3 separate regions of the Homo sapiens genome follow, and all the other regions are linked to region 1. Evidence: fine-mapped QTL for protein levels in blood plasma. A gene starts in region 1. Each other region holds a variant in brackets. All regions are shown on one strand. Distances are between the middles of the regions.

Region 1 (2,761 bases):
TCCATCTCTCCCTGGCGCTGCCATCTCTCATCTAGGCCTCCGTCTCCTCTGTCATTGTCCCCATCCCCTGTAGGTGCCCATCCTTCCCGTCTCCCCTCTGCCATCGGCCTGCCTGTCCCATCCTCTTTCTCCCACCATGTCCCGTTCTCTTCCACGTCTCATGCCCGCACTGCCTTCATCATCATCGCTGTTGTTCTGTGTGTGTTTGTGGTGAGTGCCGCATGGTGGGGGCGTCTCGGCCTCTCTCCTCTCTCTCCACTGTTTTCTCTTTCTGTGTGTCTGTTTCCATTCTATCTCCACCTTCTTCCCTCCGTCTTTTGCTTTTCTATCTCCACTTCTCCACACCCCTCTCTCCCTGCGTCTCTGTGTCTCCCTCTTCCTCTGTCTTGTTTTTTTCCCACCGTCTGCCTCTTCTGTTCCCTGTCACATCCAACTTCCACCGGTTTCTCCAGCTCTCTCCTCAGTTCCTTCTCTCATGAGCACACCTGCCTCTGTGCTCGTATTCCTGGACTCCTCTCTCTCCACTGTCATATCTTCTCATTCATTTTCCCAGTCTCTCTCTGTCTCTTGCTCTCCCCCTCTCTGTCACTCTGTCTCTGTCTCTCTCTTTCTCTCTCTCTCTCTGTGTCTCTCTGTCTGGCTCTCTCTCTGTCTCTCTCTCCATCTCTCTCTCTCTCTCCCCCCCGTCACCCTGTCTCTGTCTCTCTCTGTCTGTGTGTCTCTCTGTCTTTCTCTCTCTCCATCTCTCTCTGTCTCTCTCTCTCTCTCTCTCTCTCTCCCTCTCTCCCTCCTCCCGTGACTCCCTCTCTCAGTCCATCTCTTCCTCCCTCTCTCAGCCCCTTCGTGCCCTTTCCTCTGACACTCCCCACCCTGGTTTCCTGACTCCACCACTAGATCCACCACCTCCAGCAACTGGGAACCCTCCCCTGCCCACCCTGCCCTGGGGTCCCCTCCCAGGATTCCTTCTAGATTATAGCATCTTCCCTGGGCGGGTTCTCATGAACAATTGTGGCTGCTTTTTTGGCCAGACAGGGGAGGGAGGGGATGGGATCAGGGAGTCCTGGAATGGGAACTAGGCAATAAAAAAAAAAAAATGTCAGAAGCAGGGCGGCGGGAGGTGGGGGCAGGGCCAGCTGTCCTTACCAGGGATAAAAGGCTTTGCCAGTGTGACTAGGAAGAGAGACACCTCCCCTCCTTCCTTCATCAAGACATCAAGGAGGGACCTGTGCCCTGCTCCACATCCTCCCACCTGCCGCCCGCAGAGCCTGCAGGCCCCGCCCCCCTCGTCTCTGGTCCCTACCTCTCTGCTGTGTCTTCATGTCCCTGAGGGTCTTGGGCTCTGGGTAAGTGCCCCTTGCTGTCTCTGCCTCTCAGCCCCCGGTTCTGTTGAAGGTTCCTTCTCTCTCACTTTTTCTCTGCATTTGACAGGACCTGGCCCTCAGCCCCTAAAATGTTCCTCCTGCTGACAGCACTTCAAGTCCTGGCTATAGGTAAGAGAACGGTTGGGTATGACACAAGGGGGTCCCCTGGAGACTCTGAGAAGAGATGGGGATGGGTCCTTGGGGCCCCTGGATGCTCATGGTGACCTCATAAGAAAGAGCAGGGAGTGGTTTGGGGGTCATGGTGGGGGAACGTGCTGGAGGCCTAAATTCCTAGTTGTGGAGGTGCTAGGGAATTGTGGGGCCGGGGAGAGAGGTGTTTATAAGGTCTGGTGCAAAATACATAAGGAATCTTAGGGAACTATTAGGTCCTGAGTGGGTCATAGCAGAAAGATCACGGGGCTCTACCTGACTGTGTTAGGAAAGAAACAATGTCAGAAAGATGTTTTGTTGTCAGAGGGAAGGTGGAGAAGGATGATGGGATGGCGGGATCGTGGCATGGGGTGGCGGGATCGTGGCATGGGTGTGTGAGGTGGATGGGGGCAAGTGTGGGGCAAGAGATGGCGGATCCTTGGGGTCCCACTGAGTGGGAACGTTGGGGAGGAGACAGGGAGGTCCTTGAATGTGTTGGGGAAGGACTCATTGGGGGGAAATGTGGCATATTTCGAGAAGTGATCACAGAAATTATGGGAGCATAGAGCTAAGGGTCGTAGATGTAGCAAGGCCCTGGATAAGGTGGCCACGGCACAAAATAAGAGATGCTACGGAGGTGACTTGGGAGGTGAGTCAGAAAGCTCTCCGTGCTGGGGCAATAACGGGGTCAATATTGGGCATGTCTCACCCTGGGTGGGACAGATAGAGGCGGGCAGTTTAGGGGTTAGACCAAAAGGAAGGGGATTTGTCAGTTTTGGAATCCTACAAACTTGTGGAGTGGAGAGTGTTTGCTCATCTACTTTCCCCACCCAATCCTGTCCACTCCTAGCCATGACACAGAGCCAAGAGGATGAGAACAAGATAATTGGTGGCCATACGTGCACCCGGAGCTCCCAGCCGTGGCAGGCGGCCCTGCTGGCGGGTCCCAGGCGCCGCTTCCTCTGCGGAGGCGCCCTGCTTTCAGGCCAGTGGGTCATCACTGCTGCTCACTGCGGCCGCCCGTAAGTGACCCCCTCCCCTGTCCCTGTACCTAGTGAATTCCAGAGTCTAAAGCCCTAGAGCTGAGCTGAGAACCTGGATCTCTGTATAGAACCCAATGTAGTGGCTGGCTCCTGGTTTGAGGTCTAGAGAAGAGCCTGGAACAAAAACACAGCTCGGGATGTGGGCTCCTCCATAAATCTCGAACTCAGCATAGGTTCTGAAAGCAGATGGGCAGCTTGGAACCCATG
Region 2 (2,761 bases), 11 kb after region 1:
CTTGGGTAGATTTGGGCACCCAGTGACATGATATAACTCATGCTATAATTCTCAACCTGCATCCTTCTATAAAGCTAAATAAAAATAGTTTAAAGACTACTTTAATTTTATTTGCAACTCAAAGTTCCAGCTATGGTGGTTGAACATTATATTTTATTGATTTAAAGACACATTCTTTTCATATTTTTCACATCTCTGAAATTAGGAAGCATCTTACATCTTAATTCAGCATGATGTCTTACACCTCATAATTTAATTGGCAACTTCTTTTTCTTTCTGAGTGGTCTACAAAATAAAGTGCAATATAATCAACAGTATTTTACATTCAATTAAATAGTGTGTGAAGGAAGGTAGGTGTAGGTGAGGGGTCAGGTTGTATTATTAAATACGTCATCTGATTTCGTCAAATCATCTTGTAACAATCTATCTGCATCACTATTTGCTCATCTAGTTCACTGCTTCTAACTGCCCCAGAGTCTTCTAGACATATGTTGTCCAATATGGTAGCCGTTAGCCACAACTGGTGTGGCCATTTAATTTTTGATTAAAATTAATTAAAATTAGATGCACCTTAAAATTCCATTCCTTAGTCATACTCACAACATTTCAATAACCGTACGTGGCTAGCGGCTGCCATATTGACAGCACGGATATATTATAGATAGAATTATTTGCATCTCATCACTGGAAGTCCCATTGAACAGCACTACTCTGGTTTTTGCCCTTGCTTCACATAGCGTGGTGCAGAAAATAGCAATTCTGAATCACTTATTAGAACTGGAGTCTTAGATCTCACCCAGACCAACTGAATCGGAATCTGCGTTATATATAACAAGATTGCCAGGGCACTCAGTGCATGTTAGGATTTGAGAAGCGCCGCTGCATAGTACACATCCACCATGTTTAGTAACCCAGTCCTTCAGTGATGGACACCTAGGTTCCCTTCACTTTGAGCGTGCCACTTATGTATCTATACAAGACTCCTCTTGACCATTCACACAGGAGTGGGACCAAGGGGCCTAAAGGCCTATTCTTAATCAATTTCACCGAATACTGGCAAGTTTTTGTCTAACAAAGAAGGGTTCGACCAGGTGCGGTGGCTCACGCCTGTAATCCCAGCACTTTGGGAGGCCAAGGCGGGCAGATCATGAGGTCAGGAGACCGAGACCATCCTGGCTAACACGGTGAAACCCCGTCTCTACTAAAAATACAAAAAAATTAGCCGGGTGTGGTGGTGGGTGCCTGTAGTCCCAGCTACTCAGGAGGCTGAGGCAGGAGAATTGCTTGAACCCGGGAGGCTGAGGTTGCAGTGAGCCGAGATCGTGCCACTGCACTCCAGCCTGGGTGACAGAGAGAGACTCCATCTCAAAAAAAAAAAAAA[T/AAAAAAAAAAAT]TAGGTTTCTTCCCTCTCCACACCTTCAACAATATCCATATTTGTCACTGACGGTTCCTACGGAAGTGAATGAAGGGGGACGAATGCAGAAATAAAGACAAGAGATCTGTTTTGAAAGAATGTGTCAGGGAGCTCCTTGCTTCTGGTGAGCAAAGGCAGCCTTGAGCTTCTACAGCCCTTCATTTATATTAGGTAGAAAGAGCAGGGAGGGAGAGGTAACGGTTGATCAGCTGCTTGATTAATCACAGGTACATATAATTGTTTTCTTTGTACAACAGGCTTCAGATGTTCTTTCGGATAATCACAAGGAACACTGTGCTTGAGGCGTGACTGCCCTCAGCACCTTTTCTGGTGGCAGATGCAGTTGTCAGTTTTCCAACATCCTGCTTTCATGAGAACAGTTTTCTGTTTGCTCATATAGCCTCGAGTGGTAAACTGAGTTGGTCACAACCCCCATTTTCTCAGCCTGTAACACATATTTATTCATTCAGTAAATATTTAATGCCCATAGTTCATTTATTTATTCAGCAAATATTCATTAAATCTGATTGTGTACCAGGTATTGTTCTAGGAGCAAAATATTTGAACAATTCTTTCCTCAGGGAGTTCACATTCTAGAGGGGAGGCAGACAGAAACAAATGAATAAGTAAAACATTACGCCTGACAGATGGGAATAAATGCCATAGAAGAAAATAAAGCAGAGTAACAGGATAGAGAATGTCAGAGGAGAGTTGCAATTTTATGTTGGGTGGTTGTACAACCCAGCAGGCTTGGACTGTCCAAACCCTGCACACTACAGTGAAACTTTTGGCCCTTGCCTGGCTTCTGGGAGATAACCTCTATGCTCTTGGAATATCTTGCTAAGTAACAGTGTCTTTGTCTCTCTGGGGCTTGAGCCATGCCAGATAATCTATAACAATGTGACTTATGGTGGGGACCTAGGGACATGTTGTATCAATTTGACCTCTAGAGGATCTGGAGCTAAGGTCAGCCACACAAACAGGCAGTCATGTCGATATGACTAACCCCCAATATAAACCCTGGACATCAAGGCTTGGGTGAGCTTCCCTGGCTGGCGATGCTCCAGCGTGTTGTCATACATTATTGCTGGGGGAATTATGCACTGTCCACAAACTCCACTGGGAGAAGACAGGTGGAGGCTCATGCCTGGTCTCTCCCAGACTCTGCCCGATGCACCTTTTTTCTTTGCTCATTTTAATCTGTGTCCTTTCACTGTAAGAAACCAAAACTATAACAACTTTTCTGAGTTTTATGAGTCCTTCTAGTGAATCACTGAAACTGTCCTGGAGACTCCCAAGAACAGTGGTCAAGAGGGCCTTCATGAAGAAGATGGCAAGAATACAGGGGACCATGCAGAC
Region 3 (2,714 bases), 11 kb before region 1:
AAACGAGAAAAATAAGTCAAATATATGGTATGTTGGATCGTGATAATCGCTTCTATTTAAGTAGGAGGGACGGGGAGGCTTCAAGGAGGAGATATTCAGGGAAAGGTGCAGGGTGAGGCAGAGAGCACAGGGGTGGAGGGTCTCTGGGAAAGTGTTCCTGGCAGGAAACAGCAAGTGCAGACTCTGAGATTGAGGGAAAAAGGAGAGGGGGCAGGTGGAGGAGAGAGGTGAGAGGGAGAAGCGACTTTGGCTTGGCTTTGTTTCTAAGCACTGCAGAAGCCATGGAGGATATTTGAGTAAAGGAGGGATACTGATCACCCCTTTATTCATGCAGCAAACATTTCCTGACGCCTCCTTGGAGCTGGCGGGCCCTGCGCAGGGCGGTGGGGCAATGCAGCTGAGTCAGCCCCAGTCCCTGCCCTCAATGGGCTCCCTGTCTGCCAGCGGAGGCGGGCAGGGATACTGGCAAGTCAAGATCCGGAGGGATATGTGCCACCGTGGGGCTTAGGAGGGACACAGGGGAGGCCTGAGGTGGGGCTTCTAACTCAGTGCGGTGCGTCATGGAACGCTTCCTGAAAGAGGTAATGTGTAAACCGGGAGCTGGAGATGAGTAAGAATGAGCACAGGAAAGGGCGAGATGGGGACAAATGTGCAAGGCAGAGAGAATGGCAGGCACAGAGGCCTGCAGGCATGGGAGCCCCAAGTCCCTGCGAGGCTTTGCCGCTCCTCCCTGTGCAGGATGGTGGAGGGGGTGGCCAGCCCTCCATAAAGCACTGGAATTCTTCTGGCCGGGATGGGGCACTTAGGGAGGGCGAGAGCAGACAGGGCCGGCTCTGGGTGTCAGAAAGATCCCTCTGGGGCCGTGTCCAGGAAGGACTGGAGTAGGGAAGACTCAGCCAGGAGGCCAGGGAGAGGGCTGGGACAAAGGTCTGGGAATGGATTTGGTAGCCAAAACTGGGGCAGTGGCGAGGGTGTCAGGATGGTGAGAATGGATGTGAGGGCCATTTAAGAAGTCCTCACCAAGAGCTGGGAACCCTATTCAATGCTGAGGGTGTGTTTCCTAAGGGCGAAGAGCCCTACGTGTTCTCAAAGGCAGTGTAAATCCAAGAGACATTTCTTCCAGGCAGACTGAACAAAAACAAACAAAAAAGATGTTCGCCACATATGCCGGTGGCCATGGTAAACCCGGGAAATTCTTTTGCTGGAGGAGGAAGGCTTGGTAAATATGGAGGGCAGGGGCAGGGAGCTGCTGAGGCTGGAGGCCCAAGTGAACACAGACGCTCCTTTAGCTAAACAGGAGGCCCCAGTCTTCATGGGGACAAAGGGACTTTTGCTGTGGCCTGTGGCCTTGGCAAACACAGCCTCTACATAAACACAACTAAAGGTGGCAGTGGGGC[G/A]AAACGCCAGCGTCTCATCCCATCAGGTCAGAAGCATTCTCCCCACTGCAGGGATTTGGAGCCCAGTCTCAGAAAGACCGGCTTCCCCATCTTCCACCTGTGTGCTCTCCTGGGGCTGGGTCATTGGAGATCGCTGTCAGGTCTGAGGAGGTGGAGACATTGAGTGCAGAGATTCTGGAGAAAAGCAGAGATTCTAAACAGGCTCTGAGATGATCTTCCTCCTTCAGCCTGTTATAGAGCCCCTGCCACGTGCCGGGTGGCAGACGTGGCAACAGGGATTCAGCAACAAGATAGACAAGGTCCCTGCCCTCGTGAAGCCTCAGTTCTAATAAGAGATGCCTCTTCCTTCCACAAAGGTTTACTGAACACCTCCTATGTGCCAGGGCATAGAGGCAGATAAAGACAGTGAAAATCCCTGCACTGTCAGGGTTGCCATTCAAGTCGTGGGAGACAGAGTAGACGTAAGAGTAAGAAAGTAAATAAATAAAACATGAGAGACATCCGACAGTAATAAACACCATAGAGAGGAAGAAAACCAGCAATAATAATAAACAAGGAAGCAAACCGATAGAGCAATTACAGATTGAGATAAGGTGTAGGAAGGAAACCCACAAGAAGCTGAGATGGAAACTGGAAGGGAATGCCAGCTCTGGAGAAGGTGGTCAGGAGATGACCTTTAAGCTGAAATCTGAAGGAAGATCACAGGCAGAGTGGTGGGAAGCATGTCCCAGGCAGAGGGAACAGCAAAGGCCAAGCCTCTAAGTTGGGAAGGCGCCTCCCAATGTTGAGAAGATGGAAGAAGTTCCAGGGGGCAGAGGCACAGTACACAATGCAGTGATGAGGTTGGAAGGATGGACAGAAGCCAGACACCAAGTGCCTTGGAGGCATTTGCGTTTTATTATAATTGCAGTGGGCACTCACAGATGGGTTTTAAGCAGGTTTTAACATGATATTGTTTTAAGAAGACGTTGGCTGCTGAGTAGAGAATGGACTTAGCAGGGCGAGGGAGGGAGGGGTTGGGGGTCGAGGCTGGAAGCAGCGAGACCAGTTTGGATGCTCTTGCACCTGTGTAGGTGGGAGATAAGGGTGACTTGGAAGAGGGCGACTGAGAGGAGACAAGTGGGTGGATTCTTTACTGTGTACTTTGGAGCTAAGTGACAGGAACTGCCAAAATGGGAGGTGAGAGCGAGGGAGGAATCAGAGACGCTCCCAAGCGTCTTTGACCCAAGCACCTGGGGAGAGGATACTAACTTAGAGGAGACACAGGGGGAAGGTTGGGGTACACCGTGGAGCTTAAACAGAAATAAATGGGAGGGG

The links. PIP is the chance, under the fine-mapping model, that this variant and not a neighbour inherited with it causes the effect. Protein levels are from the aptamer-based SomaScan assay of Sun 2018.
Region 2: its variant is fine-mapped to the plasma level of the KLK14 protein (Sun 2018, PIP 0.95).
Region 3: its variant is fine-mapped to the plasma level of the KLK14 protein (Sun 2018, PIP 0.95).

Annotation. Positions count from the first base shown.
Region 1 is chr19:51,081,304-51,084,064 of GRCh38, reverse strand. KLK14 (kallikrein related peptidase 14) reads left to right here and starts at 1,178. Exons shown (of 6, transcript NM_001369775.2): 1 at 1,178-1,343; 2 at 1,429-1,490; 3 at 2,362-2,533. The coding sequence starts at 1,451.
Region 2 is chr19:51,070,218-51,072,978 of GRCh38, reverse strand. No RefSeq gene overlaps it. Among named protein-coding and RNA genes, the nearest start is that of KLK13, 6.5 kb to the right of the region's middle. The variant T/AAAAAAAAAAAT (reference allele first, on the strand shown) is at 1,382.
Region 3 is chr19:51,091,901-51,094,614 of GRCh38, reverse strand. No RefSeq gene overlaps it. Among named protein-coding and RNA genes, the nearest start is that of KLK14, 10 kb to the right of the region's middle. The variant G/A (reference allele first, on the strand shown) is at 1,398.